Regions from separate parts of the Homo sapiens genome. Here region 2 is linked to region 1. Evidence: fine-mapped expression QTL. A gene starts in region 1. The other region holds a variant in brackets. All regions are shown on one strand. Distances are from middle to middle.

Evidence for each region. PIP is the estimated chance that this variant, and not a neighbour inherited with it, causes the effect.
Region 2: its variant is the best candidate, but not a certain one, in a credible set for the expression of CPNE9 in monocytes (TOPMed, PIP 0.65).

What each region holds. Positions count from the first base shown.
Region 1 is chr3:9,702,647-9,705,548 of GRCh38, forward strand. CPNE9 (copine family member 9) reads left to right here and starts at 1,187. Exons shown (of 21, transcript NM_153635.3): 1 at 1,187-1,418; 2 at 1,941-1,981; 3 at 2,103-2,149; 4 at 2,245-2,348; 5 at 2,818-2,854. The coding sequence starts at 1,351. RefSeq lists an enhancer at 826-1,736.
Region 2 is chr3:10,552,210-10,555,111 of GRCh38, forward strand. It overlaps a transcript of ATP2B2 not described here. Among named protein-coding and RNA genes, the nearest start is that of ATP2B2-IT1, 17 kb to the right of the region's middle. RefSeq lists a silencer at 1,476-1,770. The variant TG/T (reference allele first, on the strand shown) is at 1,432.

The DNA.
Region 1 (2,902 bases):
TTCCCAGGGCTGCCTGAGCTTTAGCCTTAGGGTTGCTAAGGAAGTTGCCTGGGAATTAGGAGCTGGAGGATCTTCATTTTTTTCAGATTTTTTGAGATGGAGTCTCACTGTTACCCAAGCTGGAGTGCAATGGCACAATCTTGGCTCACTGCAACCCCTGCCTCCTGGGTTCAAGCGATCCTCCTGCCTCAGTCTCCTGAGTAGCTACGTGAACGTGCCACCATCCCCAGCTAATTTTTGTATTTAGTAGAGATGGGGTTTCACCATGTTGGCCAGGCCAGTCTCAAACTCCTGAGCTCAAGTGATCTGCCTGCCTTGGCCTCCTAAAGTGCTGGGATTACAGGCATGAGCCACCGTACCTGACCAGGATCTTCATCTTTAACAAGTTCTGTAGGCAGCAGGGTCCTGGTACGGGTGACCTGCATCCCCTACCTTGAGCCCTGCCTATGGAGGAAGGACTGGCTTCTGAAGCTTTGGAGATAGCAATTGGTGTGCATGTGTGGTGGGTGAGAGCCTGGCTGACCACCACCCTCTTCTACAGTGTAACCTACAGTAGATTGCGTCATGAGAGTGTGTCCGCATCTGTAACGCCATGAAAGTCGTGAGGGTTAAAGGCATGGGCAGACAGCTTTGCACGGTGCTCAACAGCCACCATTTACTGTCATCATTGTGAATACCCAGAGGACAAATCATAAATACCAGTGAATGTTTACTGAGCACTTGCTGTGTGCTAAGTGTTTTCCTTGGGTTATCTCAGTAAAATTTTACAGCACCTAAAGTAGCTGCTGTTAAAGGCCTTTCTGACGGCCTTTCACGGTTGAGCCACAGAGATGTTGAGTAACTTGTCCAAGGTCACACAGCTACTAAGAGATGTACTTTTCCTATTCAGAGACCTAGGCAGGCTGGGAGTGGGAAAAGACAGAAACACTAAGGGAGTGGCTCAGTAAGAGGCAACAATTCCAGTGCCCACCAGGTGCCCCAAATGTTTCAGCATCATGGACAACTCTAGGGGGCTTGGGTTTCCACCCCAGAGACTTGCGCAGGGCAGACTCTACCAAGGTGTGGGTTGGAGTTGGGAGTCGGGGTGAGGTTCCCCGCTGGCTCCAGGCTGCTCCAATGGGGCGGGGGCCGCCCGCAGGGCCGGGCGGGGCTGTGCTGCCATCTGGAGCCGCTGCCGCCGGCGGCCACTGTCAGGGCGCGAGCGGCTGGAGCGCACGCAGGGCTGGAGCGAGTGCAGCCGCCGCCGCCGCCGACACCGCGGCACATGGGCCGGCCCCGCCGCTGCCGTCGCCCCTAGCCCCAGCAGCCCTGGTCTCGCAGCCTCCTGCGGCTCTGGTCGCCCGACCAGCCATGTCTCTCGGCGGAGCCTCCGAGCGCAGCGTCCCGGCCACCAAGATTGAAATTACCGTGTCCTGCCGGTGAGCGGGCCGCGCTGGGGAGGGCTTAGGCACTGGCACTGCCCCAGCCCCAGCCAGCCGCGGGGCTCAGCCTGGGCAGGGGCTAGACCCCCGGGGAGAGGCGAAATTGGCTGGAAAATCACAGCTGATGACAGGGCGAGTAGCTGGTGGGATCGAGAAGCGGGGGGTCTTGGGCAGCCCCACCCCGAAAAAAGGGCTCAGCCTGCGGGTTCAGGGGGTGGGTCGCAGATATCCGGTAGGAGCTCGGCCCCAGGAGGACAAAGTTCTGGGGCGAGCCCTCTTTCCTGGGCCCTTGGAGACAGTGTGGGTGCGTTCGCGTCCAGTCCGCAGAGCCATGGTTCCTGGACAGCGATTTCCGGTGCTGTCCAGAGTGCTGACAGAGCGGACCCCGGCTGGGGGTAGCCATGGGGGACAGAGGTTCGATGCGGGCCCCATGCCTCTCCTCAGTGCCCGGCTCAGAGCCGACTCGAGGCGGGCGGACTCCAGGATGATCCACTCTGTCTGTCTGTTGCTTTTCTCTAGGAACCTGCTAGACCTTGATACCTTCTCCAAGTCCGACCCCAGTAGGCGGCTCCAGGACCGGGAGGGGGAACTTGGGGTCTGGGCGCGACTCAGGGGCGGGTGGAGTCGGGGCCAGGGGTGGGAGCCGACCTGACGTCCTTCCCTCCCCGCCCCCACCTGCAGTGGTGGTGCTTTACACGCAGAGCCGGGCCAGCCAGGAGTGGCGGGAGGTGAGTCCCAGAGCCCCCTCCCGGCCCAGGGCGTCGCCCGGGAATTCCCCTGCCCGTCTGCACGTCCCACGCTGACCCTCCACCCCCCTACCCAGTTCGGACGGACCGAGGTGATTGATAACACGCTGAACCCAGACTTCGTGCGCAAATTCGTCCTCGACTATTTCTTTGAGGAAAAGCAAAATCTGCGCTTCGATGTGTGAGGCCCCGCCTGGAATTCTGGCTTGGCCCGCCCCCGACCTGGATCCGCCCGGAATTCTGGCTGGCCCCACCCCCGCCTCGCCTCCGGCCTGGTTCTTCTCGCAGGCCTCCCTCCCATTCTGAATGGCCCCCTCTAGCCTGAGCCCTGCCCTTTTATGAGATGCGGTCCAGTTCCGTCCCCCGCTCTGGCCCCGCCCACAACTCTGCTCCTATCGCAGCTCCACCTCAGGCCCGACCCCTTCCACACAACCCTGCCCCCAGCAGCCCCTGACTTGGCCTCGGCCCAGGCTTGACCGTCTGACTACTCAGCCCACCCTGACTCCTCCCCAAAAGGAGACCAAAGCTGAATTCGGGTCCACGGCCGCCCATCCCTCCACCCAAAATTTTCACCAAGACTCGGTGCCCGACCCCTTTCCACCCTCTCCCCCACCCAGCCCCACCCCACACCGGTTCCACTCTTTTCCCAGGTACAACGTGGACTCCAAAACCAACATCTCCAAACCGGTGAGCAAACGTTTCCTCGAGGGTTGGCGGAGCGCACAGGAGGCACTT
Region 2 (2,902 bases), 850 kb after region 1:
CACATAGGCATCACCATGGCATCTGACAGATTTGCCCCTGTGGAGCTACTCTGTAAAGAAAAGGGGAAGAGGGGGCCCTTCTCCTCCTGCAAGGTGAGTGGGGCACAGAGGGAACAGCTTTCGTCAGCCGAACCCCCTTGCTGCAACGTGGCTGGAAGCCAACCTTAGAGAAGGTGGCAGCGTCCTGCCTTCCGCCCAAAGTGAGTGCTGGCCTGGCTCCTGGGGTGAGGGAAAAATCCCATCTTGTGGGTGCTGCCCTCCATAGCTCCCTCTCACACAAACACGTTCAAAGTCTTCTCACATACTTAACATCAGAAAGGCAATCCAGAACCTCCCATTTGTGAGCAACAGCTATGTGCTGGGTTGGCTCCCCTCAGCACTGCTTTTATGTTATTTGCTTCCTTCCATCCTCAGGATGACTTGTTCTTATCTCCTCTTACAAATGAAGAAACTGAGGCTAGAAGTTGCCCGAGGCCACAGTGCTGCCCTGAGGCAGAGCTGGGGTTCCAACCAAGATGTGTTCCCTGTGCTCAAAAATGGGTCAGGAAATTTACAAATGGGTGTCTGTGGGCATGTGAGAAGCAGGTGAACTGGAGAACATCCAGGAAGTGCAACTGCTGAGGCCACAGACAGCTCAGGGCAGAAACACTCATTTTAGGCAGCTGTCACTTTCCAAAGGACTTTCTATGTGCTGTCTCATTTACTTTCCATAACAGTTCTATGAAGTGGGAGCTAACATCTCCATTTCGAAGGCAAGGAGGCAGAGATTGAATTGCTCCTCAAGGGCATCCAACTGCTCTGTCCTCTATGGCCTCCAGCCTCCAGTTCCCCATCTGTGCAATGGGAATATATTAAAATCACACCTTCAGATGATGTCAGGGTTAAATGAGGGAACATAACAGAAATGCTTTAGAAACTGCAAAATGCCACCGGAATTCTATGGAGTATTATTATTTACTAAAATAGCTTAGTGAAGACAACACAAATAAGTCTGAGAATTGCAAGGTTCTAGATTCAGACCTAGATTTCTGCAGAGTGTTTAAGCGGTGTTCTTTCCCGGACTGGAAGCTCCTGAAAGCAGGGACCACGTCTGGTTTGCCTCAGTTTCCTCAGCGCCCTGTTCCATGCCTGACACAGAGAGGGACCTTGAAAAAGCTAGGTGAAACTATTCAGGATTAATTCAGACTGGGAAAGAGGGTGGAGGGGAAGAACAATGGGATTGAGGGCTGGAAGTGGCCTTTTAGAGGTGGGTGACCAGAAGGTTGATGTTCCAACTCTTGAGAATGAAAACGCCTCTTTTAATAGTCTTGATAAAATGGAACTGTTCTGGGCCAGCAGGGACATACAGTCATACTACTTAAATATTTAGTACTTATTTAGTCTGATCCCCATGTTGTGGGGGAAACTGAGGCCCTCAGAGGATTGCAGAGC[TG/T]GGGGGGAAACCCAGGACTCCCTGCCCCTCCATAGGCCTGCTCTTGGAAGAGCCAGAGCAGCAGCTCGGAGTGGGTGGAGCTTGCTTTTAGTGCCTGCAGCTCTCTGGAAGGAACTGGGTGTTATCGAGATAATCCAAAGTTTCTGTTGGGTAAATATCAACACTTCTGGGCCCGTTACTAAGGGCCTGGGTGGTTGCTAAGCGGCCCTATGACCTCATGAGGGGGCCATTGTTTAGCACTCAATAGGCATCCTTGAGTGACATCCCCCAGCTCCCAAATCCCAGGGGCCCCTGGGGTTTTGTGAAAAGAAGCAAGAGATTATAATGAGCAGGAGCGGTACACAGACCCACGTTTGTTTTCTGGGGGTCTAGTGGGGCGGGGGTGGGGGCTGCAGCTTTTCAGAACAAGGCATAGGAAGGCATGAGGGCCCGGTGAGAGGCTGCCAGCTGCCATTGCTGGCAATAGAAATACCCCAGGAATAAAGAATTAACCCCATGTATGGCGCTTGACCCTTTGTAACCCACCTGAACACTCATCCTCTCACTTTGTTTTCAAAGCAGCCACACCATTTCACAGAAGAGAAAAAACTGGGTCCAAAAAGGGGAGACAGCTTGCCCAAGGCCTCTCAGAAATGTCTCAGTTTCCAGGTGTGGAAGGCAGAATAATGGCTGCACAAAGACACCCACATCCAAACCCCCAGAGCCTGTGAATATGTCAGCTTATGGCAAAGGGAAATGAGGGTGCAGATGGAGTGAAGGTGTCTCACCGCTGACTTTAAGACAGGGGAGATCACCCTGGATGATCTGGGTGGGCCAATGGAATACAAGGACCTTTAAAAGTGGAAAAGGGAGGCAGAAGATTCAGTGTCTGTGAATCAAGGAAATAGGCAGCCTCTAGAAGATGGAAAAGGCCCAGAGACAGATTCTTCTCCCCCGCAGCCTCCAGAAGGAATGTGGCTCTGCCTCGATTTCAGCCCGGTAGAGCTGTGTCAGACTTCTGACTACAGAACTGTCAGCTGATCAATTTTAAATCCCCTGGTCTATGGTTTTTTGTTACAGCAGCAATAGTAAGCTAATACACCACACTTAGAAATCTGCAATGCCTAAGCCAGAAGCAGGGCCTTGAAGATCACATTTAGCTTTTTGGAGTTCAGAAAACAGAAGGCCCAGGGGAATAAAATGATTTACTCAAGGTCCCAAAGCAAGTAACACAAACAGTGACAGGCACCTCTGGGTGTGGGTCAGACCTTGTTGAGGCTACTGAGGCCACCTGCCAGGGAGTTGGAACTTCTAGGCCCCTTCCCTGCCATTCTCTGCCAGCTGGCCTGATCAGGACCCCAGACCCCAAACCTATCCCCTCTGAACCTTTCTTGGGCACAGGCAGGTCAGAGGCCCATTATGTGACAGGCAGGAGGGTACTCTCCTCCTTTTCGCCCCTGCCAAGCACAGGCAGCCCAAAGCCTATGGCCT